Homo sapiens: one gene and its partners. The protein of the gene in region 1 purifies or fractionates together with the protein of each later gene. This does not show direct contact. Each region holds a gene or a part of one and is shown on either strand. Other genes may lie near its edges.

What was found.
Region 2: the proteins of STX7 (region 1) and SNAP23 purify together in Homo sapiens (affinity purification with mass spectrometry; 5 studies listed by BioGRID and IntAct, with this or other methods). This does not show direct contact.
Region 3: the proteins of STX7 (region 1) and VAMP3 purify together in Homo sapiens (affinity purification with mass spectrometry; 5 studies listed by BioGRID and IntAct, with this or other methods). This does not show direct contact.
Region 4: the proteins of STX7 (region 1) and STX6 purify together in Homo sapiens (affinity purification with mass spectrometry; 5 studies listed by BioGRID and IntAct, with this or other methods). This does not show direct contact.

What each region holds. Positions count from the first base shown.
Region 1 is NC_000006.12:132,467,489-132,475,497, forward strand, and holds part of STX7 (syntaxin-7), read right to left. Parts: intron 4,888-8,009; coding exon 4,794-4,887; intron 4,113-4,793; coding exon 3,975-4,112; intron 3,139-3,974; coding exon 3,086-3,138; intron 2,560-3,085; coding exon 2,463-2,559; intron 988-2,462; coding exon 915-987; intron 1-914. UniProt on the Homo sapiens protein: May be involved in protein trafficking from the plasma membrane to the early endosome (EE) as well as in homotypic fusion of endocytic organelles. Mediates the endocytic trafficking from early endosomes to late endosomes and lysosomes.
Region 2 is NC_000015.10:42,497,951-42,505,959, reverse strand, and holds part of SNAP23 (synaptosomal-associated protein 23), read right to left. Parts: intron 1-8,009. UniProt on the Homo sapiens protein: Essential component of the high affinity receptor for the general membrane fusion machinery and an important regulator of transport vesicle docking and fusion.
Region 3 is NC_000001.11:7,773,287-7,781,295, reverse strand, and holds part of VAMP3 (vesicle-associated membrane protein 3), read right to left. Parts: intron 7,855-8,009; coding exon 7,785-7,854; intron 4,137-7,784; coding exon 3,978-4,136; intron 3,179-3,977; coding exon 3,127-3,178; intron 1,671-3,126; coding exon 1,651-1,670; 3' UTR 1-1,650. UniProt on the Homo sapiens protein: SNARE involved in vesicular transport from the late endosomes to the trans-Golgi network.
Region 4 is NC_000001.11:181,019,489-181,027,793, reverse strand, and holds the start of STX6 (syntaxin-6), read left to right. Parts: upstream 1-4,923; 5' UTR 4,924-5,120; coding exon 5,121-5,155; intron 5,156-8,305. UniProt on the Homo sapiens protein: SNARE promoting movement of transport vesicles to target membranes. Targets endosomes to the trans-Golgi network, and may therefore function in retrograde trafficking.

The DNA of each region.
Region 1 (8,009 bases):
AAAAAATTGTCTTTCCTCCCATTATAAGATCAATTGAGATAGGGTATTTTATCTGTTATTTAATTTCAGCTGAATCTCCAATGCCTAGATTTGTGTCTGGACATAGTAGCCACTCAACATATTTCGGATGATGAATAAATTGGTTTTTGAAATTTTACCCTGTGATCTACTGGGGATACAGAGGAGGGTAAGAATGGATAAAAAATAGTTACACTGAAGTAAAGGTGCAAATATTTCAGTTGGACCAAATTCAGAAAATATACTAAAAGCATCTTTAGACATACCAATACATAGCTCCAGACTTCAAGATGGTCAGGATCCTGATGAATGTTAACAACTACACCCTAATTGAAATGCTATTACATTCAATACTTAAGGGATTCTTAGCAACTTTAGAAAAGAAAATCACTTCTAAAAAGAATTCCTAACTTCTATGTAATACTACTAAATTCATCTACCAAAAAGCTATTAAAATGAATGATTAGGCAAATGTCTACCTATTCCCTAATACCTAAAAGACAAGATGTCATGCACAGTTACATATACCACAAGTTTCCCCAAAAGTGCTTAGCATGATGACAAATAAATTGGAGTAAGACTAAAACCAGAGGCCCTGGAAATAAGCTGGAATAATGTTTCATGGTGCCTTCCATGGTCTTGGCAGCAATAGGCCCTGATTAAATTTGGGCTTCTGAAATAAATGAAGCTGGTTATTTCAACCAGCACGAGTTAAAAATGAGATCTGTTTTAGATAATGCCAAGGGTGATGCTTACTGTGTTTTATAGACCATGCTTTTGGTTCCAGGGAAACCAAAAAAGGGACAGAAAGTGGTTACTCTTCTGTGAGAAAGTTACAGCAGGTAAAGTGCATGTAGCTTGCTCTCACCTCCAAAATCTAAGTCAGCAGGTCTTACCTATTACATCTCCTTGTTCATGAATCATCATTCCCAAATCTTTAAATATTTCATTAATATCCATAATATCAGCCTAAGAGAAAACGCATATATTATTATAATCAGAAATTCAGTCCCCATTCCATAAAAGAGGAAAAATTTTAAAAACCCAAACCACTACTCACACATGGGTGAGCATGCATCTATAATACACAAATATAATACATAAACTTTGGAAATATCAGGAAAATATTTGACAATAATTAAGAAGAATTTGAACAATAGCCACCAGTTCTCTAAAATCAGTTTGTGGCATTAAAAATACCAAGTGAGCGAGGCAGGATGGAAATGAATGGAAATGAAGGATCTATAATAGAGAAGAGCCATGGATTGCTGAGTTCATTTTATACAACCTGATAGTTTTGTTATCACAAGCAGTATCTACTTACAAGGGTATAAAATATTCTTAGCATGTATTTCTAGTAAAATTTACACATCAATTTGACAATTTAAAGTAATAAAACATTAGGTGTAAATTTAAAGTCTCACATTAATAATTTGAACATGCAGTGGATTAGTGAAATGTCACTACTGAATAAAGAAGTTATAAACTTGGTGATTAAATATAAATTTACTTTTCTTCAATGACACAATTAACTGCTTCATAAAGTTTTTATAAGGACTAAATGAGATAATTAACATAAAGAATTCATCCCACAAGTGCCTGGCACATGGAAGGTCTTCAATAAATTGTAGCCATTGTTAGCTATTATTAGCCTTCTTTCTAGGAACTAAGTAGGTTCCATAAGAACTATGACTTAATAAATCCTTTAGATCTCTTTGATGTCATAAACATAGTAAAGAGAAATAAAATTCTTTGAAGGCCTTATAAAAGGTCTTACTCATGCAGGTATGATGTGTATCATGTGCTCTGGGAAGACATCCAGACTCTTGGACAGACATTTATCTCTACACTGGTATTTTCTCAATACTAAGGTGGTCCATAGATGGCTTGATATAACAATAATAATTTTTAAAAAGCTGCAGTAGGAGGGAGTATGATCCCTCGTCCTAGCACAAACAGTAAGGACAATATTATTTTTTTAAAAAAGGAATTATTCCAACTCATACATTACAAATGCTACCAAACTGATACATTAATTTTCTTTCTCTGGGCCAGACATGGTGGCTCACATCTATAATCCTAGTACTTTAGGAGGCCAAGGCAGGCAGATCACTTGAGACCAGGAGTTTGAGAACAGCCTGGCCAACATGGTGAAACCCTTTCTCTGCTAAAAGTACAAAAAATTAGCCAGGTGGGGTGACACGTGCCTGTAATCCCAGCTACTCAGCAAGCTGAGGCACAAGAATCGCTTGAAGCTGGGAGGCGGAGGTTGCAGTGAGCCGAGATTCCACCACCGCACTCCAGCCTGGGTGACAGAGGGAGACTGTCTCAAAAAGAAAACAAAATTTTTCTGTCTCATGCATTCTCCCAGCATTACCTAAGCATCTTGAGAACAAACTCACTAAGACCAGAGCAGCAGCCCAAGTCTACAATGTAAGCCTTACTTCAAGTTGCCTGATAGAAGATTCTCTCTCATGAATAAGACGGAGGTCATCCTCTGTAATTTCTTCATCCTGCACCTGCACTTGAGGTTGAGTTTGGCTAACAGAAAAAAATGAATGTGGAAAAAAACAAAGATTGGTATTCAAAACAATGGGACTCATTTCCTATTTAAGATATATTCATTAAATAGGATATTTTATTCTCCAAAGTCACAGAACTACTCAAAAAAATTCTAAGAATATAACAGATATATTAATAAAATTTATTCATTTTTCATTTCACTTATATCATTTTAGCTAATGTGAGTTTAGAGTTATTACTTAATTATTGGAAGCTGTATCTGTCAACTGGGTATTTCTTCTCAGCTGATTTAAACCTCATATAAGGGAATGTCTATATTAATAATTAAGTCCATAAACATTTATTTGGAAAACTTTATATATTTTGTAATAAATACTTTATAATTACTTAAAATTTTTTTCAAATTTACTCTGTTTTCAACATATAAACAACTTAGGATATTTATGATATAATATATTGAAAGCTTTAATTCTGTTCCAGGGACCTTAATGTATAAACTTTGAAAAATTACCTTTTGATCTGTAAAATGTTTTGTATTTCTTACCTTTCCCAGGATACAAGATTCCTTTCTTTTGAGCTGTCCTCAGGAAAACTGCCCTGAATAATTTAGTAACAGGATGGAATGAGAAGGGGCAAAAAAAGCAAAAATGAGAAAAAATAAACACTCATATTTTCCCTTATAATAAACTAAACTGATTTATGTACGTGTCTGTGTGTATGTGTGTGTGTGTGTAGAGACAGAGAGAAAGAAGTTCTTGTTCTAATTTTTCAGGTCAACTGCTTCAAGTAATAATATAATTATAAGTAATTTTATATTCTAAGTAGACAAGAAAGGAATTCACTAAATATTCTCAAGGATCAAATAAGTATTATTTAGTTAAAGCTTAATGTAGTCTTGGAATCCATATGTTAATGAATAAGAAAATAACTCATGATAGTTTCTAAGGGAATTTAAAATTAGATTAATTCAAAATTCTATTGTAAAGCTTCCTTTCATTTATTTTCTCCAGGCTCATGTTCATTTTCAATATTGATACAACATACTTGCGCCATTCATCTCCGTCATCTTGGTGTAATCCAGGAGGAAAGTGCTTTCTACACTAGCGTGTACACAAGCAGAAAGCCTCAGTACCAAGACGATGTGAGAATACTACTCAGGATTTGATCCCTAATCTTTTTTGACAAAATATGTCTCTATATTTTTATATACTCTGTAATCTTCTGTACTATGACACAAAAAATCACCACCGTAATACAAAATTATCATCCTTTTCTAAAAATGGAGCAGGAAAGCATAAAAATAAATATTCAAGAGCTGATTTCCAAGATATTCACAGATCTTTATGACTTAAAAAATTATGCTACTATAGACTTTTATGGGACCCTTAGCAAGTAACCATGTTCATTTCTAGAATGTCTTTTAAAATACTTACAGACACTCTGGAACTGGCTCTTACTCGAGCAACAAACTCTTTCTCTCGCTCAGCAGCCTGCCTCTGGACCTTCTGGAAGTTTGTCAGTGATGTTGTGAACTCTGCCACTAAGCGATCCTTCTGTATTTTCCTTTGACGCTAGAGGAAAGAGAAGAAAAAGCCAACTAGAATCTAGCTGTGAAGTTCAACTGAATTTGCGGTAGTTGGCTCTTTATTTAACCCTGAAGTTTTCACTTACTCCCCAATTACAGGGCCTTACAGATTAACTCTCAGTAACATTCTGATAGTATGTCAAATACTGTGCATATTTAACTTGAGGCAAAAGACCCATTATGCTGGATTTCTCACCTCAGGTTTTCACGCTGCTAAAAACTAGCTTATTATTTTGAGGCTATTTTAAAGTAATTCTTTTTCAGGCAAATAAAGCCTTATACTTTTAGCTAAGTAATAACTTCCATTAAATAAGCAGGGAAATAAATATGTGCCCCCAGGACACCTCACATCTTGAATGAGCCTGCATGTTCCACGCAGTCAGCCCCGGAAGGCCAGGAAATAATTACTCAGGAAGCATTTTCTGAGAACTAACTTAATTATGGGTCAGGGCAAATGCATGGAAATAATTTTTGCTTTATTGAACCACAGGATACTACCTGAGCAATTAAATATAGTTTTGTGTTCTGTGAACTAATCTCAAACAGAATTATTTTTGATTTCCTTTCTAGCATAATTTCCTTTCTAGCGTAACAGTTCAAAGATCCTACAGTGCACTGGGTTTTTTTCACATTCAATACATCAACAATGTGTCTTAAAGCTTGATACCTGTTCACTGGGGGTGGTGGGCAGAGATCCAAACTCTTTAATGTACTTATCTGTTTCTTTGGCAAGCTGGTTAGTATACTGCTGCTTCTGTTGCCTAAAGTGAGAAAACACGCATTACAGCCAAAGGACTAATATACTTCTTTAAGCTTCAACTCTGCCTTTTGAATCAACACTGATAAACAGTTGTACAAAAATTGCCTTTTCATAAACTGGCTCTCAACTTTCTCTATCAAAAAAAATTTCATATCCTATTCTTTGATAAATAATGAGCAAATATTATATGTCAGGTTCTTCACTCACACAGGGTAGGCAAGCTTAGAGAAATCAATTCAACGGCCATTTAGAAACACAGATGACTTGAATCAGAGGGAACCTGAAGGAGAGACTGTTAGATGTCTGATCCTTTATGTTTGAGATACTGGGGATGTGGAAGCCCTTTATCTGCATCTCACACCTGGAAGGTCAGGTAAGCAAGAAAAGATTTGTTACCTTAGACTTTGCCCAGTTCCCAGATCTAGTTATATCTGGCCTCTCTTATTTCTCTATGTGAACATGTATATGCTATAGATACTTAAAAAAAAGGCGGGGGGGAGGGGCCAGGCATGCTGGCTCACACCTGTCATCCCAACACTTTGAGAGGCCGAGGCAGGCGGATCACTTGAGGCCAGGAATTTGAGACGTGCCTGGCCAACATGGCGAAACCCCATCTCTACCAAAAATAACAAAAATTAGGTAGGTGTGGTGGAGCATGCCTGTGATCCCAGCTACTTGGGTGGCTGAGGCAGAAGAATCACTTGAACATGGGAGGTGGAGGATGCAATGAGCTGAGATTGCACCACTGCACTCCAGCCTGAGCAACAGAGGAAAACTCTTGTCTCAAAAAATAAAAATAAAAAGGAAAGAGGCAATATTGGTACAAATTTACTATTATTTAAGTTTACGCTGGAAAAAATAATGGCATTTCCTTGTAAAGGGAAAGAACACAATAAATAAAAGAAGTAAATTATAGTCATCCCTCAGTATCTGCAGATTGGTTCCAGGACCCCTGTGGATACCAAAATCCGCTGATGCTCAAGTCCCTGATATAAAAAGGTATAGCATTTGCATATAACCTATGCATATCCTCCCATATCTTTAAATCATCTCTAGATTATTTATAATACCCAATACAATAATGTAAATGCTATGTAAATAGTTGCTATATTTTATAGTTCAGTTTTTTTTTTTATTATTGTGTTGTTTTTTTTTTTTTCTTGAATATTTTTGACCTGCAGTTGGTTGAATCTGGGGATATATAATCTATGGATACAGAGTGCTGACTACATATCCATATTTTATCTAGCTATCTTATAAATTGAAAAGATTTCCAACTTAAAAACATGACACTAAAAAAAAGCTCATATTAATTGTGATGTTTTACAAATCACAACATCAGTACCTCTTATATATTTCATCTCATTTTAAATATGGTCTGGTCACACTTGGGGTCCTTTAAAATAATGAGATATTGTATAAGAATATGCTTAAGAATAGGGATCTGTATTTGACTGACAAAGGGTAATTAAAATCTATTTCTATCTCTATTTACCAAATACCCTATCTTTAATGCATTTTTGTAAATCTCTGGAAATCATAATATAGTCAAAGTTTTAAAAAGAAGACCTTAGGCTGGACATGGTGGCTCATGCCTGTAATCACAGCACTCTGGGAGGGTGAGGTGGGTGGACTGTCTGAGCCCAGAATTGAAGACCAGTGCCGGCAACATGGCAAAACACCATCTCTACAAAAAATACAAAAATTAGCCAGGCATGGTGGATGTGCCTGTATTCCCAGCTACACAGTAGGCTGAGGTGGGAGAATCGATTGAGCCTAGGAGGTCCAGGCTGCAGTGAACCGTGATAATGTCACTGCACTCCAGCCTGGGTGACAGCATGAGATCCTGTCTCAAAAAAAAAAAAAAAAAAAAAAAATCCTTAGTGACTACGGATATATATTCAGAATCTTCATTATTAACTCTATCAAAATATTAGAACTTTTATGAATTATGTACTTCTATTCCATTTTACTTTAGTTTAATGAATTGTGGTTTATTATTTAGATTTGGAGCATTTTTACCATTCTGACACTTACCCACTGTGGAAAAATAAAATATAAATTAGAGATAATTGTAAGTCCTTCAAATTGTACTTCCTAAAAATATGAATTCCTATTACCTATCTTTTAATATCGTCCTCTTTGCAGTTTTCCCTCTATAGTTAATGTTGTTTAGAAGTATTGCTTACTAGATATATGTGACTTGAAATTTACAGCTGTAACAGTACTGAAATAAAATTTAAGAGTTAAGTTCTAAATGACATTGGGTAACTCGTTAAACCCGTAAGAGACATGAACAAAATGGAAACAGTTCTTTTGGTCTATTTCTCTTACTCTAATTCTGTAAGGTTTAAATGATAAAATATGTAAAAATACTCTGTAAAATCCACAACATACCACAGACAAAATATTATCACTATGACTGCTGGTCTTCTAACAGCATATTAATTTACTGGAATATGTACTATATAATTCATTATAACTTTTTTTTAAACGGAAGCTAATGCTCTCTGAAATTCAAGGATGTAGGTATAAACTTGTGGGGAGACAGCTCACGTAGCTGGTTATGTATTGGATCTAAACCAAATAAAACTCTGGTGACTGCGGGGATTTTTAGCTATGGAAAGTAAATCACATAAATTGAGATACTAGAGTATAATTTTTCAACAGCTGTCAAAAACAACCTACCTAAAAACTGTAAGAAATGCAACTAAAGAAATTCTGCTTTGATAGGGTAAGCCTATCAAGGAATTTTTTTTTTTTTTTTAAGACAGAGTCTTGCTCAGTCGCCCAGGCTGAAGTGCAGTGGTGTGATCTCGGCTCACTGCAACCTCCGCCACCCGGGTTCAAGAGATTCACCTGCCTCAGGCTCCTGAGTAGCTAGGACTACAGAAGCTCGCCACCACGCCTGGCTAATTTTTTTATTTTCAGTAGAGACGGGGTTTCACCATATTGGCCAGGTTGGTCTCGAACTCCTGAACTTGTGATCTGCCCACCTCAGTCTTCCAGATCTTTAATATAAAAACACCTGCCTACTCCAGACAGGGAAAAATCTACACAAAAGCTTGGTACAAATGTATGGATAAGGTAGCAGAAAAACTCCATTGTTTTTCCATTTTTTCT
Region 2 (8,009 bases), on another chromosome or scaffold:
AAAAATAAAAAAGAAAGAAAAAAAAAGAAAAGAAAAGAAAGAAGGAAAAGAAATGGAAGGGAGGGAGGGAGGAAGGGAGGAGATAAGAAAACAAGCAAGCAAGAGGCCAGGTGCGGTGGCTCACGCCTGTAATCCCAGCACTCTGGAAGGCCAAGGTGGGCAGATCACCTAAGGTCAGGAGTTCAAGACCAGCCTGGCCAACATGGTGAAACCCCGTCTCTACTAAAAATACAAAAATTAGCCAGGCGTGGTGATGCACACCTATAATCCCAGCTACTCAGGAGGCTGAGACAGGAGAGTTGATTGAACCCGAGAGGCAAAGGTCGCAGTGAGCCGAGATCATGCCACTGTACTTCAGCCTGGGCAACAGCAAGACTCCGTCTCAAAAAAAAAAAAAAAAAATGCAAGCAGAAAGGAAGTAAAAGAAAAGAGAAGAAAAGAAGAAAGGAAAAGTAAATGAGCTTCTTGGAAAGAAATACACAGAAAAAAGGCCCTGGAATTTAAATAAGGCCTTGGAAGATCCATGTGGCTTCATTTGTAAAACTGGTGAGCTACTCAAGAAGTAATGAAGAAAGAGCACTTTAAATCACCATCAGGCCAGGCGTGGTGGCTCATGCCTGTAATCCCAGCACTGTGGGAGGCAGAGGTGGGCGGATCACTTGAGGCCAGTAGTTCAAGACCAGACTGCCCAATACGGTGAAACCCCAGCTCTACTAAAAAGAAAACACAAAAATTAGCCGAGTGCAGTAGTGCACGTCTGTGGCTTGAGCCTGGGAGGCAGAGGCTGCAGTGAGCCAAGACTCACTGCACTCCAGCCTGGGCAACAGAGCAAGACTGTCTGAAAAAAAAAGAAAAAAAAAATCACCATCAATTTCACAGGGTCTTGCAAAGAATGATTTTATAAGATAATTCTTTTTATACTGGTAAACAAGGATTTTGCAGCTAAAATATTCTACCAAATTAGTTTCCTGCCTTATTCCTTCTCTGAAAATTAATCACAATAAAGCTCCTCAATGAGTTACACTCAAAGGGTTTATTACTGTACTTTTAAGTTCAGCATTCTCTTTGGCTTGATAGAAGTCTACGTCCATGGTAACCAATGCATCCGCAGCAAGAGGAAACTTCTGTTTATAGCAGGATAGCATAGTGGGTGAGTGGGAATTCCAGCATATAAATTCCAGCCTCACAATGTATTTGTTGTGTGACCCCAAGTTAATTACCTAACACCACTAAAACTCGGTTTCTGTATTTGTAAAACAAGGATAACATTCTATTTTATAGTTTTGTTTTTTTTGTGAAGATTAAAAAGAGATGATCTACACAAAGTACTTAGTACAATGCCTTGCACATGGCCGGTGTTCAATGTTAGCCATTATATTAATATTTTTACTGAAGTGGAAATAAATAGTAGGCAAAACAAAAGGAAAGTAACAATGTTGAATATGAGTCACATTTATGTAAATGTAGCTGAAAGTAATAGCTACTAAATATTAATAGTTCCATCTGCAAGGCTAAATTTGAATATTAAAGTTGATGATATAAAGTATAGGCTATATACAACTTTTTTTTTGAGACAGAGTCTCACTTTTTATTTTATTTTATTTTACTTTATTTTATTTGAGACGGAGTCTCGCTCTGTTGCCCAGGCTGGAGTGCAGTGGTGCAATCTTAGGTCACTGCAACCTCTGCCCCAGGGTTCAAGTGATTCTCCTTCCCCAGTCTCCCGAGTAGCTGGGATTACAGGTGCCCACCACTACACCTGGCCCTTTTATTATATTATTATTTTTTTTTTTGTAGAGGCAGGGTCTCACTATGTTGCCCAGGCTGGTCTCAAACTCCTGGCCTCAAGTGATGCTCCTGGCTCAGCCTCCCAAAGTGCTGGGATTACATGTATGAGCCACTTTGCCTGGCAAGGGTCTCCTTTATGTTAAGGATGGCTTCCTCCTTTTACTTCCTCTCTGGGCTTTCCTTTCTATCTCCTTCTACACAAACAACTTTAACCATTTTTATATATAGGCCCCAAAACTATGCAAATATACATACATATTTTTTTCTCTTTTTAAAAACTCTTTTCTTTTTACCATACAAAGTCTATAACTCAAATGCAAATATACTAAGTACATCACAGAATCGTATCTACTAAACAGCTTGGTTTCAGGCCAGGCGCAGTGGCTCACATTTGTAATCCCAGCACTTTGGGAGGCCAAGGTGGGTGGATCACCTGAGGTCAGGAGTTTGAGACCAGACTGGCCAACATGGAAAAACCCCGTCTCTACTAAAAAATACCAAAGGCCGGGTATGGTGGCTCACGCCTGTAATCCTAGCACTTTGGGAGGCTGAGGAGGGCAGATCACTTGAGGTCATGGGTTCGAGACCAGCCTGGCCAACACGGCAAAACCCCGTCTCTACTAAAAATACAAAAATTAGCTGGGCGTGGTGGCATGTGCCTGTAATCCTAGCTACTTGGGAGGCTGAGGCAGGAAAATCACTTGAACCCAGGAGGCAGAGGTTGCAGTGAGTCGAGATTGTGCCACTGTACTCCAGCCTGGGCAACGGAGTGAGACACCATCTCAAAAAAAAAAAAAAAAAAATTAGCCAGGCGTGGTGGCGGGCACCTGTAATCCCAGCTACTCAGGAGGCTAAGGCAGGAGAATCACTTGAACCCGGGAGGCGGAGGTTGCAGTTAGCCGAGATCGCACCGCTGCACTCCAGCCTCAGCGACAGAGCGAGACTCCATCTTAAAAAACAACACGAAAAAACAAAACAAACAAAAATCAGCTTGGTTTCAAAGTACACTGAAGCACAAGATTCAAGACAGAAATCATATTAACAAATGGGAAAGTCCCACTAAAAATCAGGAACCAAAAAGAAAACCAAAATTACATTTTCAGGCCTATAGTCCCAGCTACTCAGGAAGCTGAGGCAGGAGGATCACCTGAGCCCAGGAGTTTAAATGTAACCTGGGCAACATAGCAAGACCCTGACTCTAATTACAAAAAAAATTAAACTTCAGTTTTACAGAAGCACCTATGGTAACTTAATTGCTTGATGTCCAACGCCTGGTCTTCAAGTCCCTGTCAAATTAGGAACTTCCACAATTCTACTCTAAGTGACCCAGGAGTAATACTGGGGAGGTAGATGTAGGTTTGATTGTAATCAATTTTATTAACCCTATCAATGAGAATGGTTATGTGAACAGAAAGGGGACGTTCTATGTGAAAGATAAGAACGGGGCTCAAGAGCCAGAAGCTGGCAATCTACCCAGGAAGAGACAATGTGGCAGGCATAAGTGTGGTATCTGCCAGGGAGATACCAAGTACGGGGTGAGATTAATTGGCAAGGATTCACCCTGCCTGAATGAAATATTCACCGAAACCATCCACATAGTTTAGCTCTGATTAAGTTCACTTAGATGCTTTATTTATTTATTTATTTATTTAGGTAGATATAGGGTGGCTCACTATGTTGCCCAGGCTGGTCTTGAACTCCTGGCCTCAAGCAATCCTTCTGTCTTGGACTCCCAAAATGCCAGAAGGCGTGAGACACCACACCCAGCCACTTTGATGCTTTCTGGTTAGTTTTTCAAATATTCCGATATTAAGAGTCAGAAGCTACAGACAGCGAATATAAGCACTCTGCCGGGCGCAGTGGCTCATGCCTGTAATCCCAGCACTTTGGGAGGCTGAGGCAGGCGGATCACGAGGTCAGGAGATCGAGACCATCCTGGCTAACAAGGTGAAACCGTCTCTACTAAAAAACAGAAAATTAGCCGGGCGTGGTAGTGGGCGCCTGTAGTCCCAGCTACTCAGGAGGCTGAGGCAGGAGAATGGCGTGAACCTGGGAGGCAGAGCTTGCAGTCAGCCAAGATCGCGCCACTGCACTCCAGCCTAGGCGACAGAGCGAGACTCCGTCTCAAAAAAAAAAAAAAAAAAAGAGAGAATATAAGCACTCACGTCCCTGGAAAGGATACCCCCAACAGAAAAGAGTGGCATTCTTGCTTATACAAAAGACAACATAGTATAGTAGTTATGTGCCCAATATCTGAAGGCATAATGGTTTCAAATCCTGATTACTGTTAACTTTTCTGTGCTTCAGTTTCCTCATTAAATGAGAATAATGCTTACTTTAAGTGTTGTTACATGGATTGAGCTAATTCAAGCACAGTATTTAGAGCAGTGCCTGGCACACAGTGCTCAATAAAACTATTATAACTTTTCATAATAATTATGAAATATCTCTCGTGATTTTGGCCAGGCATGATGGCTCATGCTTACAATCTCAGCACATTAGGAGGCCAAAGCAAAAGGATTGCTTAAAGCCAGGAGTTTGAGACCAGCCTGGGTAGTAAAGCAAGTCCCCCATCTCTACACAAAATTAAACAACAAAAAAAAAATCAGCCAGGCCTGGTGGCGTGCACCTGTAGTCCCAGCTACTCAGGAGGCTGAAGCAGGGGGATCACTTGAGCTCAGCAGTTTGAGGCTGCAGCGAGCTATGATCATGCCATTGCACCCCAGCCTTGGTGACACAGCAAGACTGTCTTAAAAAACAAACAAACAAAAAAACACAAACACCCTGATTCTCATTTGTGTGGGTCAAAATCCAAGTATGATCAAGTCCAAAAAATTATGATTTTAAATTAAATTATCAAAAAGGAAGAAAAAGCCACAATGTAAGGCTTCAGTGGTGAGGCAGGAATATAATGTGTGTGTGTATGTATGGAGGGCAGGGGATGGCTTTCAAGACAGAACACATATTGTGAAGAGCTTTGTATACTATACCAAGAAGTTTGAAATTTATTTTGCTATGCTGCCTAGGTTGGTCTTGAACTCCTGACCTCAACTGATGCTCCTACTTCAGCCTCCCAGGTAGCTGGGACTACAGACACACCACCACACCTGGCTTGAGTTTTATAAGTATTGAAAGGCCATCGAAAGTAATTTCAATTTCCAAAACACTGTCAAAATAAATTTAAACAAACTTTACATCTAAGTTACAGAACTTACAGAAAGCAACAAGAAGAGAGAATTCTGGAAAAACATAGGAATCAGTGATTTAAATACTTTAGTAGCAATACAACCTAAATTGAAACCCAAACCAAAATGTCAGTGAATCTAAATGAATACAAATGGGCTTCTTCTACTCTTACTATTTAAAAAAACACAGTACATTTTGTTTCCTGGCTCCATAATCCACTTCCTCTAATTGTTAGAGGCACTGGATCCTTCTGTTTCAAGTTTCTACCTATCACAGCAAAGAAAAAGAGCAGTCCTGGCCGGGTGAGGTGGCTCATGCCTGTAATCCCAGCACTTTGGGAGGTCAACGCAGGCAGATCATCTGAGGTCAGGAGTTTGAGACCAGCCTGGCTAACATGGTGAAACCTCGTTTCTCCTAAAAACACAAAAAATTAGCCAGGCGTGGTGGCGCATGCCTGTAATCCCAGCTACTCAGGAGGCTGAGGCAGGAGAATCACTTGAACCCAGGAGGCAGAGGTTGCGGTGAGCCGAGATCACACCATTGCACTCCAGCTTGGGCAACAAGAGTAATACTCTGTCTCAAAAAAAAAAAAAAAAGGGAAAAGAAAAGAGCAGTCCTTGTCATCTGCCCGTCTGTCAACCTACAGATCTGGAAACAAAATATAGTAATGGAATAAAAAGTTCAGCACTCTTGGAGATAAGCAACATTATAATATTATACATGCTAATATATACACAATGTGGAGTACAAACATAGCTCAAAAACAGATGTCCAGAGTGTTGCAGATAAAGGAACCAAATTGGGGCGGGGGCGGGGGAAAGCCTGAATTCAGGGAAAAAAAAAGGCAGCTGATATCAAAGAGCAAACATCCTCTTTTTCCTTTTTGTTATTTTAATCTACAGGAGCCTTGACCTCCCAGGCTCAAGCGATCCTCCACCTCAGCCTTCTGAGTAGCTGGGACCACAGGCACTGGGCACCAGGTCCAGCTAGTTTTTTAAAAAATTTTTGTAGAGACAGTCTTGGCATGTTGCCCAGGCTGGTCTCAAACTCCTGGGCTCAAGCGATCCTCCTGCCTCAGACTCTCAAAGTGCTGGAATTACAGGCATGAACCACCGCCCGGCCCTAATCTACTTTCATCTGGTGGAACCAGTAAACTTTGCTAGAATTGTGTTATGATAATGAACATCATCATAGAGATCACAGAATTTTCAAGCCCATAAGCTTTAGTTCAATCTTCATTTTAAAAATGAGCTGATTAGGCCCAAAGCAGTATCTTCCAAAGTGCTGAGCAAGAATATGATTTTAACTGTTACATATGAAAGAGTTATATATTTAATAGTTATGTATTTATTATAATGGATGCTAAAAAAGCTATAAAATACATAAAAACCATGATTTCACAGATTATCACTTTGGAAGTGGGCAATGTTTTTTTAAAAAACCCATTAAACATGAAGTAAAATAACAACAGTACTCTAAATGGCAAAAATTATGATGGTGGTATGACTCATAGGTGAAGACTCCACAGCTGTCCCATGAGTACAGGCCTGTTTTTGTTTACTTTCTTTCTGGTTCTAGGTTGTGTTCTAAATGATTAGAAAAGATGTGACCTTAGACCGGGCGCGGTGGCTCACGCCTGTAATCCCAACACTTTGGGAGGCTGAGGCGAGCGGATCACCTGAGGTCGGGAGCTCGAGACCAGCCTCACTAACATGGAGAAACCCCGTCCGTCTCTACTAAAAATATAAAATTAGCCAGGTATGGTGGCGCCTGCCTGTAATCCCAGCTACTCGGGAGGCTGAGGCAGGAGAATCGCTTGAACCCGGGAGGTGGAGATTGAGGTGACCCTAGATCAAGATATTGTACTCCAGCCTGGGCAACAAGAGTGAAACTCTGTCAAAAAAAAAAAAAAAGATGTGACCTTTAGTTAAGTGGGCTTGTGTGTATTGTACCTAAGTTCATTCAGTGTACAAGAAACAAATATCAAGATACATATAGGAATTCCACTGTTTATTTGGCACAGTAAGACATCCTTATGCTGGAACTATGATAACACTAACTTTCTAGTGCATAAACACATACTACAAGCACCTAAAGTAAAACCTAGCCTGAGACAAATATTCAAGCTGCAGGCTAAGTGATATGATCACTTAAATTACTTTCACATGACCTGTCAAAGGAGTATGGCAATGTAAGGTGTTTCTCTTATTTGCTAATATTTCTTTCTTTTCCTGAGATCACTCAGATCACTGGATCACTGAGCTGAGACCACCAAGTAATTTATAAAGCAAAGAGAAGAAATTTAAGCCAGCTGTAGAAATTTGCGTTAAGTAACAAGGAGCTGAATGTTAATCACCAAAACAATGGGAAAAATGTCTCCAGGGCATATCAGAGATCTTCATGGCAGCCCCTCCCATCACAAGACCTGAGGCCTAGGAAGAAAAAATGGTTTCGTGGGCAGCCTCAGAACTTGGGGCCCTGAGTCCCAGCTGCTCCAGCTCCTGGCTAAAAGGGGTCAAGGTACAGCTTGGGCTGTTGCTTCAGAGGGTGCAAGCCCCAAACCTTGGTAGCTTCCACGTGGTAGCTGGGCCTGCAGGTGCACAGAAGTCAAGAATTGAGGTTTGGGAACCTCTGTCTAGATTTCAGAGGATGTACGGAAATGCCTGGATGTCCAGGCCAAAGTCTGCTGCAGTGGAAGAGACCTCATGGAGAACCTCTGCTAGGGCACTGCAGAAAGGAAACGTGGGATTGGACACCGCCCACCCCCCAGAATCCCCACTGGGGCACTGCCTAGTGGAGCTGTGAGAAGAGGGCCACCATTCTCCAGACTCCAGAATGGCAGGTCTACAAACAGCTTGCACTATGAACCTGGAAAAGCCTCAGGCACTCAATGCCAGCCCAGCAGAGCAGCCTCTGGGCCTGAACCCTGCAAAGCCACAGGGTCAGAACTGCTCAAGGCCTTGGGAGCCCACCCTTGGCATCAGCGTGCCCTAGATGTGAGACATGGAGTCTAAGGAGATTAAAATAAGTTTTAA
Region 3 (8,009 bases), on another chromosome or scaffold:
AGTACCAAGGTTTCTGAGTCAGACCCGGCCAGAGACCCTGCGCTGAAGGTGGACTAATGTCCTAACACTGCCAGCTGCTTTCTCCTCACAGCTGGCCACACCGCAAGGCATCTCTTCAACAGTAAATCATTTCAGCGATGTTAAGGGAACAGACGTTAAAGAAATGGAAGCTGTGTCCTGGTGCGCCTCAGCTGTTGCTGCTTTATAAGTCATAATAGCATGTGAACAAGAGTTTTAGAATATTCCAGTAACAATGAGCCACAGAGCGATAAAGTCTGTGTCTTTCTCCCTCAGTGCCTCCTTGCCTGTTTTCTTTCATACCTGAATTCCCATCTTTAAGCTGTGGATCCTGATGTTGAGTCTCATGCATACAAGAAAAGTTTTTCCGATGACAAAGTTTCTGCTTCCAGCATTCCCATCAACAGCATTCTCTGCAGTTGATGATATCAAAGCAAAGGTCTCTGGTTGGCTACTCTCTGTGAAAAGAGCCATTCACCCCTGACCAATGCCTAATTGCAGGCATAATTTAGAAAACTGATTTAGGAAGCAGAATGTGAATACAAATAGGAAACAAACTCCAAAGTTATAGTTTATCTTCATATTTGGGCCAGATAATGATCAAGTTCACAGGTGGTCTTACTTGAGGCTACAGAATTGTTGCTTGCATAATTATCAGAAACATGCTGGAGTCCACAGCTGATAATCTGCCAACTGCTGGGTAGAACTCTTTTATGAGACGGTCAGAGTCTACCTCAAACCTTCTCTAACCCCCATGCAAAATACTGAATCAGAAGGGGAGCCACACTGTCTACAGCCTTTCAAAAGGAAGAAAGGCCTATGAAGATGTAGAAGGTTCACACACAAGGTAATGATTTTAATTCTGAAGGGGCACCTTGAGTTCCATTTGGCACGTTTCTGAATTTAACTGTCAGGAATACACTTAAGGCCATTTTATCGGTATTTAACTTTTTGGCAAAATAGAAGCTTTGGTCATAGCCATAGTTCTTTAAAAATTTTTTTAAAGAGGTTATCTCTGATTAAAACAATATTTTTAGCAAGTGATACATAACAATAACAACAATGTAAACATCTTCAAATCTAATGCAAGAGCAAAAGCTCTTCACCAGCATCTTAAATACAGCGAGAGTCAGTAGTGCTTACAAAAAGTAGAGGGTTCTCTTCTAGGGAATCAGAAAATTATCAAAATAAGGCACAGCCTGTTGTTATCACAGATTTGTGTTAGGCAGTAGTGTTTTTTTCTGGAAGGCATAAGTTGGAAATCTGATTACCCAAAGGTTTAAAATGTGGTTCTGAAAATAATGCCAAATGACAAGGGTAACTAACTGGGAGTAATGGCAATTAATTAGTGACAACATTACATCTAGATTATAGCACTCTGGAACTTAAGAAGGCCTCTTCATCAGCCCATACGTAAATCTGTAAAGGCACTGTGCAAAATGTGGACGGGGCCGGCCTTCTAATTTGGAGTGCATATTAAAAAACAAAGGCACGTTTCCTAGAAATTCAACTTTACATTAACACAAAAAAAATTTTAGAGATAACAGTAGGTAAGCTTGATAATATAGCAGGTTCTAAGTCAAAAGTCTTGAAGAGGTTTCTTGAACAGCAGTTTTGAGTTCCGCTGGTTCTTCATGAAGAGACAACCCACACTAAGAAGGAGGAGAGATGCAAAAAGGCAGGGGAAACAGCAGGTTAGTCTCTCAGTGTGAATCCCAAGCCAACATCCAATGCTGCAGTCTAAATGTGATCAGAAATTAGACTGGGCTGATTTCCTACTACTGGCTTCTCTCCATTCTATAGAGGGCTAGAGGAAGGAGACTAGAGTCAAAAGGATCCAAGTAACTGTACCTTCCTGCTAAAAGGAAACATCCACTAACATCCATCTATCAATGAAAGAAGTCATGTTTCGGTTCTCATATACTGGGCTACCGATGGCAGTGAGTTGTTTGAATATTATATAATAATAGTTGTGTGTGTGTTTGTGTATACATATATATTATTTATATAGCTATTATTTTTATTATTATATGCCAGGCACCAACCTAAGCAATTTTTATTTATTTTATTTATTTATTTTTTTGAGACGGAGACTTGCTCTGTCACCTAGGCTGGAGTGCAGTGGCATGATCTTGGCTCACTGCAAGCTCCGCCTCCCGGGTTCATGCCATTCTCCTGCCTCAGCCTCCCCAGTAGCTGGGACTACAGGCGCCCGCGACCACACCCGGCTAATTTTTTGTATTTTTAGTAGAGACGGGGTTTCACCGTGTTAGCCAGGATGGTCTTGATCTCCTGACCTCGTGATCTGCCCGCCTCAGCCTCCCAAAGTGCTGGGATTACAGGCGTGCGCCACCAAGCCCGGCCAATTTTTATATATTTACCAGATCTGTCCTTTAACAAACAAACAAACAAACAAGACAGGGACTATTATTATCCCCATTTTACAAATGAGGAAACAGAAACCCAGAGATATTAAATTGCTTGTCCACGGCCATACAGCTGGATGGTGGTGGAGCCAGGATGGATCACAGGCACTCCATGCTTTTAACCACTACATTACATAAAAGGAAATATGTGAAAAAAATATATTCAGAGAAAAGAAGTGGAAATGAATAGATTTTCTCTAACTTCAAAGGATTAATGTTTGTATCAAATCTCAGACTTATACAAAACTCAAGTACTTAAAACATTTATTAAAGAAAACTGAAAACCTTGGAATAAATGAACCTTTCTTTTTTTTTTTTGAGAAAAGGTCTCACTCTGTCACCCAGACTAGAGGGCAGTGGCATGATCATGGCTCACTGCAGCCTTGAATTCCTGGGCTCAAGCAATCCTCCTGTCTCAGCCTCCTGAGTAGCTGGGACTTACAGGTGTGCACTACCATGCCTGGTTAATTATTAACAATTGTTTGTAGAGACGCTATGTTGCCCAGGCTGGTCTCAAACTCCTGGCCTCCCAAAGCTTTGGGATTACAGGCATGAGTCACCGCACCTAGCCAAAACTAACATTTCGGAGGGAAATTTTAATCTGAGTTCTTGTACACAAAATCAATGGTCTGTGAACACATGGAGAAGACTTTTCCAATCAGTTTAGAAAAGGGTAACTCACCGATGATGATGATGATGAAGATAACCAGAACAGTAATCCCGATTGCCCACATCTGTAACAAAACATATGTCCATATCACATTTCAAATGCAGACATAATGTGCTTGTTGAAGAGTATTATATAATATTCATCTAGTCACTGAAAGGGAAATTCAGGTGCATACAGTCTGGAGTAATTAATAATTTCTAAAGCCTAAATTAAATGTTCTCAATTAGGGCCTGAAGGTAACTTATCTGCTTTTAAAAGATGTTCAAATGATGTGTGGCCTCTAGCTAGGCATTTGTTTGTGTATACAAGTTTTCCACATATGGAAAGGCTGCTCAGCTTGCCCTGTGTCTCAAAGTGTCACTTGTAAACAAGGCAGAGGACAGGATACATCTGGATCTGATTGCAGCACGCTAACTGTATAAAATCTGCTTTGGCTCGTGCTCCTGGGAGAGCTGCTTTCTACTCTTCTGTTGGGCACACTGTGGCTTTCTAGCATTTCTTTCCCTTGACCTTGGAACCATTCACAGAACTACGAGAAAACTGACCAATTCCAGCCCTCTCCTATCTGTTTGGGGCCCTGCTGGGGTAGAGGGTTGGGAGGGGCTGATGACTGTGAGTGATTTTGGATATTCCTGTTCTACCTGCATCTTCTGAAGATCAGCCACAGCACATAGAGGATTCCTAGTGTGGGGCTAGGAAAGGGTATGCAGTCAGTGTTTCGGATTCACAGTGGACCCACATTTCCATGTGGAGGAAGTCAAACCCACCTCCCAGAGTCGTGAAAGTCCATTATCTGTAGCCTGTTAATTCTCTGAGAATGGAGAAGGGGGGTTAAATGTAAAGGTCAGTTAAAAGATAATTACCTTGCAATTCTTCCACCAATATTTCCTCTTCAACTTGGCTGCGCTCGTTTCAAATTGAGAAGCGCCTGCCTGCAGTGCGTCTGCACGGTCGTCTAACTCAGAGAGCTTCTGGTCTCTTTCCAGAACCTTGTCCACGTTAACTCGCATTATGTCCACCACCTAGATGAGTGTGATCACAGCAAGTAATGCACAAAGAATGGAGGAACAGGGCCAGGTGCGGTGGCTCACGCCTGTAATCCTAGCACTTTGGGAGGCCGAGGTGGGTGGATCACCTGTGGTCAGGAGTTCGAGACCAACCTGGCCAACATGGGGAAACCCTGTCTCAGTACTAAAAACATAAGAAAATCAGCCGGGAGGGGTGCTGGGCGCTTGTAATCCCAACTACTCAGGAGGCTGAGGCAGGAGACTCGCTTGAACCCAGGAGGAGGAGGTTGCAATGAGGTGAGACTGCGTCATTGCACTTCAACCTGGGTGACAGAGTGAGACTCCGTCTCAAAAAAAATGGAGGCACAGAGACTTCAAAGACAATCTACAGGCACATTGTTCTTTCAGGTCAGCACTTTATTACTTTGAGCCAAACTTTCACTTTAGAAAAAATGGGCTCACTCTTTCATGATCAAAACAATCAGCATATTAAGGATAGAAGGGAATTTCCTTAATATGATAAAGGGCATTTATGGGAAAATCCACAACTAATATCATGCTCCATGGTGAAAGACTTCCCCCCTAAGATCAGGAACGAGGCAAGGATGCTCACTTTCACACTGCCACTCAATACTGTACTGGAAGTTCTGAACAGAGCAATTAGTCAAGAGAAAGAAAAGGCATCCAAATTGGAAAAGAAGAATAAACCTATCTGTATTTGCAGATGATTCTCTCTATATAAAAAATACCAAAGAATCCACAACAAACTGCTAGAGCTAACAAATTCAGCAAAGTTGCAGGGTACAACAACAACACATAGAAATCAGTTGTGTTTCTATACACCAGCAACAAATAATCTGAAAAGGAAATTAAGGAAACAATTGTGTTTACAATAGCATCTAACAGAATAAAATACCTAGGAATAAATTTAACCAAAAGGTGAACGACTTGGACAATGAAACTAGAAAACATTGCTAAGAGAAATTGTTAAGAGACATCATTAAATGGGAAAACATCCTATGTTCACACACTGGAAGACTTAATATTGCTAAGAGGGCAGTACTCCCCAAAGTCACTTCCCAATTTCAAAACTTACTACAAAGCTACAGTAATCAAAACAGTGTGATACTGGCATAAGGACAAACATATAGACTGATGGAATAGAACTGAGAGTCTAGAAGTCAACCTAAGCATCTATGGCCAATTGATTTTTGACAAGAGTGCGAAGGCCATCCAACAGTCTTTTCAATAAACAGTGCTGGGCCAATTGAAGAGCCAACATGCAAAAGAATGAAGTTGAATCCCCACCTCACCCTATATACAAAAAGTAACTCAAAATGGATCAATAATCTAAGTGTAAGAGCTAAAGCCATAAAACTCTTAGAAGAAAACATAAGGGTAAATCTTCATTACTTTGGATTTGACTGTGGATTCTTATATACCAAAATCAAGAACAACAAAAGGAAAAACAGATACATTGGACTTCATAAAAATTAAAAACTTTTGTGCATCAAAGAACATTATCAGGCCAGGTGCGGTGGCTCATGCCTATATTCCCAGCACTTTGGGAGGCCCAGGCAGGTGGATCACCTGAGATCAGGAGTTTGAGACCAGCCTGACCAAAATGGTGAACCACTGTCTCTACTAAAAATACAAAAAATTAGCCGGGCAAGGTGGCGGGCGCCTGTAATCCCAGCTACTCTGGGGGCTGAGGCAGGAGAATCACTTGAACCTGGGGCTTGGAGGCTGCAGTGAGCTGAGATTGCACCACTGCACTCCAGCCTCGGCAACAGAGCAAAACTCCGTCTCAAAAAAAATAAATAAAAATAAAAAAAATAAAAAAAATGTAAAAGACAAGCCACAGAATGGGAGAAAGTATTTGCAAATCACATGTCTGATAAAGAAAGATTTAATATCCAGAATACATAAAAAACTCTCACAACTCAAACAACCCAATTAAAAAATGGGCAAAGCCTGAACAGACATTTCTTCAAAGACATACAAATGGCCAATAAGCACATGAAAAGATGCTTAACATCACTAATCATTAGAGAAACGCAAATGAAAACCCAAAGAGCTCAGTAGGATGGTTATAATCAAAATGGAAAACAAGTGTTGGCAAGGATGTGGAGAAACAGGAACTCTTGGACATTGCTGGTGGGAAAATAAAATGGTGCAGCTATTGTGGAAAACAATTTGGCAGTTCCTCGTAAAATTAAACATACAGCTACTATGACCTAGCAATGCTACTCCTAGGTATACATTCAAGAGAAATGAAAGCCTATGTCTAAACAAAATCTTTCCTGTGAATATTTATAACAGCATTATTCATAATTGCTGAAAGGTGGAAACAACTCGAAGACTCATTAACAAATGGATGGCTCAACAAATTGTGTATACACATACAATGGAATATTACTCAACCGTAAAAAGGAACACGGTACAACACGTTACAACTTGAATGAATGCAAAAAACTTTGTGCTAAGTGAAAGAAGGCAGATGCAAAAGGCCACACATTGTATGATTCCTTTTATATGACATACCCAGAACAGGCAAATCCACAGAAAGAGAGAGCTGATTAGAGGTAACCAGAGAATGGGAGGAAGGGGAAATAGTGAATGATTACTAAATGGGCATGAGGTGTTCTGGGGTGATGAAAAAGTTCTGAAAATGGAAAGAGGTAATGGTTGCAAAATATTATCAATATACTAAATAACACTCAATTATATACAGTTTAAAATGTTTAGTTGTATGTTATGGTAATTTTGCCTCAATAAAAAAACAACTCTCCTTAAAATTCCTTTGGCTAAAAAAAAAAATCCAATTTGATTTTGTAAGTAAACAGAATTTCCAGGCAGGACAGAATTACAATGGGTTTCTTACTGTGAAAATCTAAAATTGTATAAGTTCATGAACAAAACCATCAGATCAAAACATTACTATATTATTTAACAACAGTATCTGACATAACTTTAACTGTTTTTTCAGGGCAGCTAAATGCAGAAAGACCGAAATATATTTGTCGGACAGTGACGGCTTTTAGGAATGTGGAAACACTAGTCTGAATTTCTCAATCTTCTGCTGTGGTTCTCCACATACGGCGCAGAACAAAAGATGGAGGTCCTCTAGCTCAAGAATTCTACAAACAGAGATTTGCTGAGCTAATGGAGTTTGACAGTATCTACTTTGTGTGTGTCAATGGACAACCATTAGAGATGAATTCTACAGAGAGGCTTGCTCAGGCTGGACAATTAGTAAGAAGACAAAGCATTTTGATAAAAAAATCTGATCAGAAGAACTGGTCTTGGCTTGAGCAATCTAAAGACCTAATCCTTAACATTGTATTATCCGATTTTATAAAGTGCTTCTTGGGGAATGCACTCAGGGAGTGATGTTCATGTTTTAGGCATATGATTTTTTATTTCTCCTGAGCTAAATGTTATGAGCAGGTTTCTATCACAGGAAAACAAGCGTGAAACCTAGAAAGTCTGACTTTTGCTTAGATTAGATCTTCCAGCACAGCAGGGAGCAAAGTTTCGTTACAATTATGATACAGTCAGAATTTGCTTTACATTCACACTTTGATGATACTTTTTCTAAACAGATTTCCAGAGTACTCATATTTGTTTAAAATTCATATTTCCAACATTTCAGAGCAATACCTCATCTACTTGATTTTGTGTCTGCTGAAGTCTTCGATTACTGCCAGTGGCAGCAGTTGGACCTGTAGACCTGGAACATGTAAAGGCATGAGCATGAGTACATTACGATTCCAAATACATTTTCTTAAGTATAAAGATGTTACTCCGGGACTCTCACTGTTAACAATCTCTTACATTAGAACTAAAACAGAAAAAGAAATTCTTCCTGAAGCAATGAACGAAAGT
Region 4 (8,305 bases), on another chromosome or scaffold:
AAAATTTAAAATAGAATTACCATATCCAGCAGTTCCACTTCTGGGTATATATCCAAAATAATGGAAAGCAGGGTCTCAAAGAGATATTTGTACACCAGCGTTCATAGCAGCATTATTCATTATAGCCAAAAGATGAAAGAAAGCCAAGTGTCGTCCACTGATGGATGAATGGACAAGCACAATGTGGTATATATACAATGGAATATTAGGCTTACAAAGGAAGGAAATTCTGCAATATGTAGAATGAATGAATGAACCTTGAAGATATCATGCTAACTGAAAGAAGCAAATCATAAAAAGACAGATCCTGTATGATTCCACTTATGTGAGGTACCCAGAGTAGTAAAATTCATAGAGACACACAGTAGAATGGTGGTTGCCAGAGATTGTTGGGGGAGAATGGGGAGTTGTTTAATGGGTATAGAGTTTCAGTTCTGCAAGATGAAAAGAGTTCTGGACATTGGTTGCACAACAAGGCAAATATATTTAACACTACTGAATTGTACACTTAAATATGGTTAAGATGGTAAATTTTATGTTATGTGTATTTTACCACAATTAAATTTTTTTTTTTTTTTGAGATGGAGTCTCGCTCTGTCGCCAGGCTGGAGGGCAGTGGCGTGATCTTGGCTCACTGCAACCCCTGCCTCCTGGGTTCAAGTGATTCTCCTGCCTCGGCCTCCCAAGTAGCTGGGACTACAGGCACGCACCACCAAGCCCAGCTAATTTTTGTATTTTTAGTAGAGATGGGGTTTCACCATGTTGGCCAGGATGGTCTCGATCTCTTGACCTTGTGATCTGCCCGCCTTGGCCTCCCAAAGTGCTGGGATTACAGGTGTGAGCCACCATGTCCGGCCTCATAAATTTAAAAAATAAAAAATTTAAAAAATAAAAAATTATTCCCATATATGATCCAGTTGTTCCTTATAACAGGCTAGTGAAGGAGCAGGCTGAATGTCATTATTTCAGAGTAGGGGAGATCCCCTTGTAGGGGTGTCATGGCATTCCCGCAGCTTCCAGGGGCAGGGGGTGGCTACCCACTGCAATCCCTCTCAGGTCTATCCTGGCATCCCCAGTGATATGGTTGGCTCCTTTCTGATCCTCAGCTCATTTGGCTGCCTGTGCCTTATTCTCTGTGTTGCCATCTCCTTATTTCTGCAGAAGATGCATTGCAGGACCCAGTGTGCTCCCTTCCTCATTCACTCTCCTAACTTTGGAGACTCACTCAGGAACCAGAGGTTCTCCTGGCTGCCCACTCAGAACTCTACAGAAAGCTCAGAGTTGGCATGTCAACCTCCCCCAGAAAAATGAACAGAAGTTAAGTCCAATTAAGAGTTTCGGTTTGAGGAATTCTGACAAATGATACTCTCATGTAACACACACTCCGTCAAGATACAGAGCATTTCTAGTACCCAAGAAAGTTTCCCTTCCCAGTCAAACTCTGTCCCCCAAGACAACCACTGTTTTGATTTTTTATTCCCTGAGAAATTTAAATTATTCTTTTGGGTTGGGGGTGGGGTAGGGGTGGGGGTGTGGGAAGAGATGGGTTTTTGCTGAGTATTCTTCCCAACCTATTGTTTATGCCAGGACGTGGGTCCTATTAAATGAAAAAAAAAAAAAAGAAAGAAAGAAAGAACCTCCTTTGTTTCTCCTTGCATTTTAGCCATAGCTTCCCTTTCCTTGTGGGCAGTGGAGGCCAAGGTCTAGTTTGAGAGAGGGTAAAGGAGGGTGACACATTAAAGAAAGGAACACCTACACACACACACACACATACACACATTTTATATCTTGACACTCCACTATCTCCATTGTTGGTGCTTTTTCTAATCCCCTAATTATGGGAACCCAAGCCTCTGTCCTCTATCTTCTATTACTACTTATAAAACTCTGGCCTGTCATATGTGGTCCAATTAAGAAATTCATGGAACAGATAATAAGAGGCCGTGTCAGGCACTTAGGTGATAATAACATTAACATAGTATCCTGTCCCTCCAGGAGTTTACTGTTTGGTGGGGATAAATGACATGCTAACAGCTAATTTACATTCACCCTAAATCAAATCCTCCTCTTGTGTTCTCTTTCTTGATGGTTGGAACCAACACTACCCATTTACAACCCCAGAAGCCTTCCTCCCTCTTCTTTCATCAATTCCCCCATACCCTGAACCAATCAGTCACCAAGTATACTAACTTTGCCTCTAAAGTATGTCTCAAATGCATCACTCTTCTCCACCTTAGTTGTCACAAGCCCAGCTCAGGATACCCTCATCCCTCCTCTGGACCATAACCTCCTAGCCACTGAAGCATCTGTCTCAAATGCCAATCTGACCCTGTCAATTCCCTCAGTCCCCATGGGGAACTGTCCATAGGAAGCGTCCACTATTCTGAACATTACAAACAAGGGCCCTGATAATCTGACCCTGTCCACCTCCAGGCTTAGCTCCTGCTGCCCCCATCCTTTTCCTTCTACTCCAGCAACATGGCCCCCTTCTCCTGGCTGCTTCTAGTCACTGCTTAGGAACCCCCTGCCCCAGCCCCGAAAACACACAAATATACTGGTATCTTGTCGCTGTGTTTCTATGGCAACCTGTGCCCTTCTCTCACTGTGTGTCTCTCCCACCAGTCTGTCTCTCCCACCAGTCTGACAGTTCCTTGAAGGCAAGAACCAAGCCTTGTTCATGCCTGTGTCTCAGTGCTTAGCACACAGTAGGAGCACAACATGTGTCAGGCACTGTTTTAAGCACTTTTCACACATCACCTCATGACACTCTATAAGGAAGCTGTTATTACGGTGTCTATTTCACAGTTGAGGATAGTGAGAGATGAAGCGGCTTGCCTGAGATGCAACAGTCAGGAAGCAGCAGAACTCAAGCAATCAGACTCCAAGGATGGTCTTCAACACCATGCTCACCTACCCCTCAATTTACATGTGCTTGTTGAATGAATGAACGATGACACGTTTTCACCTCCCCAGCTAAGTAAATTAAACAGTTCTCTCCCAATAAACATTAGCAATCACTAGTATTGGACACTGCTTCCTTTCCCCACATCTGCCTTCCATCATTCGCTCCTCCAGGGATTTTGGCTTTCACCCCTCTCTTCTCTCCCCTCCTGAAACCCATTCAGCCCCTCATCATGTCTAGGTGTTTAGTCTTGTTTTCCTTTTGAAACATCTGTCAGATTCACTCCTTCTCTGTTCTCAATCGCTGTCATCCTGGTCTGGACCTCATCCCTTCAGGCCACATGACTTTAGCAGCGTCCTTACTGGTTTTCCTGACTTCAGTAACTTAGTCCTTTGGGATCTTGAGGTTTACACACATTTTTATTTAACCATCACAACAACCCATGAACTAGCTATTATTATTTATGTTTTATAGATGAGGAACTGAATGATAGAGCCAAGGTTTAAACGGGGTTTGTGTTGCTCCAAGGACTGTGCCAGCTCCAGACTGGTGACCTTGGGCAAGTCACTTAACCTCCGAGTCTCAGATTTCTCATTTATAAAATGGGCATGATAGCAGTAATTATCACATTGTAAGAGCAACTGAGATAACACTTAACATCCTGCCTGACACACACACACAGTAAGTGCTCAATGATTTTCAGCAATCAAAGTCCACAATCCCCATCCACAAATTTCATAGCATATCTAGCATATGAGTTGGTTAATGGTTCTGGGCAAAATGTTTTCTCGAATAGCTCTTGAACCACAGTGAGAGGAAGTTGTCATACCTGGCCCCTTCTTTATTCCTCGAAGGTGTGCTCTCCTGGGAAGCACCATATGCTGTATGAAAAATTACTTTACATGGTTATTTGCAGAATGTACAGCAACAGAAAGTACACCCCATCTGGTGGAAAGTGCACAGAATCTGCAGTTCTGCCCTGTCCAGGCTGTGTGACTACAGGAAGTCTTCAAGCCTCTCTGAACTTATTTTCTTATCTACAAAATGAGAAAAATGGATGGTGTGGTGGCTCACGCCCATAATCCCACCACTTTGGGAGGCAGAGGCAGGAGGATCATGTGAGCTCAGGTGTTCAAGGCCAGCCTAGGAAATATACTGAGAGCCCCATCTCTATAAAAAATTTAAAAATTAGCCGGGCGTGGTGGCGCTCACCTGTAGTCCCAGCTACTCGGGAGGCTGAGGCCGGAGGATCGCTTGAGCCCAGGAGGTCAAGGGTGCAGTGAGCTGTGATTGTGCCACTACACTCCAGCCAGGGTGACAGAGAGAGACCCTGCCCCCCAAAAAGGGGGAGGGGGGAATAATACTTTCCCCCAAAGGATACTGAGATGATGCATACACAACCTTTAGCACACTGTCCAACACAAAGCAAGACCTACTTAAAGGATCTGTGTAACATTATAATCAGATACTATGCTTCATTTTAAGTCGAGGACCAGATAGATTTATAAATTACATACTGTCAAAATTAAGTATTAAAAGTAGAGGAAAGGTAAGAGGATTTTGCAAATCAGGTACAACTACAGCTTATCCTGAAAAGCCGACTGCCTAGTTCTGAGGGAACAAGCCACTCCTCACCCTCAAGCTTGAGGAGAGGGCTGTAGAAGCCCGCCCACCTCCACCGCCCCGAGGGCTCCGCCTCCAGGGCCGAGGGACGCAGGCGTAAGCCCCGCCCACTGGGGGGGGGGGGAGAGAGAGAGAGAGAGAGAGAGAGAGAGAGAGAGAGAGAGGAGAGAGAGGAGAGAGAGGAGAGAGAGGAGAGAGAGGAGAGAGAGGAGAGAGAGGAGAGAGAGAGAGAGAGAGAGATATATGCCCTGGTCACGTGAGCGGGGTGCGGAAGTCGTGTTTCAGGCGGCGTTCGTGATTGGCCGCGGCCGAGGGTCCCGGGGGTGGGGTCAGGCCCTCCGACGCTTCGGGAGGAGCCGGGACTGGAGGCTGCCGAGGGGGCCGGCGCCCGAGTCCGGGATTCGGCCAGTGGTGCTGAGCGAGTGCTGGACCAGCGGCCGTCCTGTGCACCTGGCCTGTGCGCGTGCCCGCTGCTCGGCTTCACCCAGACTAAGGCGCGGGCAGCTGCGGGAACAGGCGGGGTGGGCGGAGGGAGACCGGGAGGCACGGGCGCCCTGTGCGCGGAGGAGGTGAAGGCGGCCGGGGCCGGGACGCCATGTCCATGGAGGACCCCTTCTTTGTGGTGAAAGGGTGAGTGTCGGCCGAGCGCTCCACCGGAGGAAGAGGTGGCGGTGCTGCCTGCCCGCACCTCCTAGGTCTTCTCGCAGTGGGGGGAGGGGAGGCAAGTTGGAGCTGGGGAGGGGGAACAGTGGAGACGGCTTAGTCTTGAGGGCCATGACCAAGCGTCAAGAGACGTTCCCTCCATCCCTACCTGGACCGTGAAGCCACTGTCCCCAGCCAAGCCCCTGGTGGTGGGGGGCCCTTTTTGGCCTGTGTGCTGCGGTACAATTTATTTGGGGGCCGAGGGGCTCAGCAGCTCTGCAGGTGGGGAAGGAGACACGCGGGTCCTGGCGCACACTGGCCGTCTAGTCGAGCATGGGATCTTGCTTCGAAGGAGCGAAAACAGCATCTGGGCAGGAAAAGGGAAATGGCCCTCCTGAGCTTTGTAGTTCGCGTTGACGGGGGTGAGCTCCATTGTCCATTGAGTTTGGAGCGCTTGTCCGCAGACTGGCGAGACCACAACAAGCCCAGAGGCGTCTGAGCACGTTTGCTGGGAGGGAGGCGGGGGCGGGGGCCGTTCTGGGAGGCTGGGGAGCAGGGCACCGGAAGACAATTCAATGGGGGAGTTTTTACTGAGTAATGTGAGGAGAGGAAAGCAGTCGTTCATACTCAGTGATGATTTGGAAGGAAAACAAAATGAAACAAGCCAAACCAAACTTTCCTCAGCTTTCTATTAGCAACCGGAATTTTCTCACAGTGCTAAAGGAAATGAGTGTTGCTTGTTAACTCCTTGATTTCATCCAGGTTGTTTGACAGGTTTCTCCTATTTCTTCTGCCTTTCAGAATAGAAAGGACTGCCTTCTGTTCCCTTACAAGCTATCCTAGCTCATCTTTGATTGCTCGATTGTTTCTTTGGAGATAGAGTCTTCAACTGCACTTTGTAATATCCACTTCGTAGCCATTAAACACATGCAAGAAGATCAATTCTGATGTAACTTTTAGTTTCTTATTAGAAACTTGTCAGTTTTCTGTTTTAAATGTCAAACATGAAAAATCTGAAAACTGCAAAGTTCCCAGGTCAGTACTGATCACCACAGAATGTCCCTTGCTTTTTACTAGTTGCTGCTAGCTTCCTATTTCTGTAGTGGTGCAAGCTGGCCGTTGTATAGTCAAGTGTTGTAGAAAATTTAAATGGTATTTTAGGTGAAATACTTTATCGATTATGCAGTAAAATACATTTATACTACTTCTTAATATTTCCCTGGAAAGTTTTTTTTCTTCACCTTACTCTAATTTAGATGGGAAAATGCTGAGTTGTAAATTTACTGGTAATATGTGTATCCCTACCTAGAAAATGTGATATTTATTAGAAGGATTGATTTAGGGGTTAATTTTTAAAATAGATGTTTTTTCCTTGATTGAAAGTTCTTAATGCTTAGGTTGGCAAAGGTTATCTCTGGCGGTAGAGATCAGAGATGATCAGAAATTTTTTGTTTGACTTTTTATGGAATTTGTCAAAAGCCTAAATTCTTCTGTCTTGGCATTTTTTTTTCTTGATGGTATCCTATACAGTCTACTAATGCTTGCTCACTGATTAAATATCACTACTTTATCGGAACATTGGCTTGGAGGGAGTTTTGATTGATTTTTACATCATTTTAGCTCCTATCTTTAAGGTTCTTGAAGGAAAAGAGATTCTCAGTTCCTTCTGCTGTGGAAAGGTAAAGTCACCCATGAAGGTGTATCCAGATTTTTGGGGAGTCATGTACCTGTGTTTATTAAAAGTATCAAAAATGCATTACACAGCATGCAAAAATTAAAGGTGCCTAAATTATGGCCCTTAGCCTAGGAGCTTCTGGTCTAATCTGAGAAACAAATTACCCCAAAATTAAATAGAAATGACAGGTGGCAAATGAATGAGTGTTGAAGTGAATGCTACAGATAAGTGCCTCAGGAGTTCAGAGAAAGGTAACTCCTTGGGAATTGTTAGGATTAGGAGAGCTTTTGGAGGCAGTAGTGTATCTTGAATTAGGTTTTGAAGATGGGCAGAATTTAGATAATCAGGCCTGTCTCTCTTACCTGGATGCTTATCAGAGTCTTTTTAATTGTTCTTCCTGCTTCTGGTCTCATTTCCTCTTTCAGCTGTCCTGGGATCTATTGGATCATTGCTGTCCAATAGAAGTATAATGCCAGCCATGTATGTCATTTTACATTTTCTAGTAGCCGCAGTAAAATATAAAGGAACAGGTGAAATTAATTCTAATGTAATCTCTAATACATTCAAAATATTCAACATGTGATTAAAGATTATTGATGAGATATTTTACTTTTGTACTAAGTCTTCTAAATCTGATACATATTTTACACTTACTGCACATTTAAATTTGGACATTAAATTTTCATCAGAAATAATTGATCTGTATTTAAAGTTCATTAAATACATTTTTTTTTTTTGAGACAGAGTCTTGTTCTGTTGCCCAGACTGGAGTGCAGTGGTGCAATCACGGCTCACTGCAACCTCTGCCTCCCAGGTTCAAGCGATTCTTGCACCTCAGCCTCCTGAGTAGCTGGGACTATAGGTGTGTACCACCTCACCTGGCTAATTTTTGTATTTTTAGGACTATGGGCAGGGCACCCGCCACCACGCCCGGCTAATTTTTTGTATTTTTTAGTAGAGACGGGGTTTCACCATGTTAGCCAGGATGGTCTCGATCTCCTGACCTTGTGATCCACCTGTCTCGGCCTCCCAAAGTGCTGTGATTACAGGCGTGAGCCACCGCGCCCGGCCTACATACTCTTTAATTGTTCCAAACATACATAAAAGGTTTTTGATAACTGAATTGCTATCAGTTACCAAGTTTACATTAATTAAAATTTAATTTCTGTCACACTAGCCACATTTCCAGTCAGTAGTTGTATGTGGCTTCCGTGTTGGACAGCACAGTGTAAGCTTTTCTAGAGTCCTAGACAGGTGTACCCTACTTAATATTATTCAGTGGCTGCTGCTGGCCTGCAGAATAAAGTGCCAACACTTCCTGACCTCACTGATCTAGCCTCTGCTCTCCCTTAGCCTTAGTACTCCAGCAGTGCCAGACTCAATACAGTGACTGTGATTGCTGTACTGGATGCTCTTACTCTACATGCACCCACACTGCCTGATTCACCCACGCAGCTTTCTGG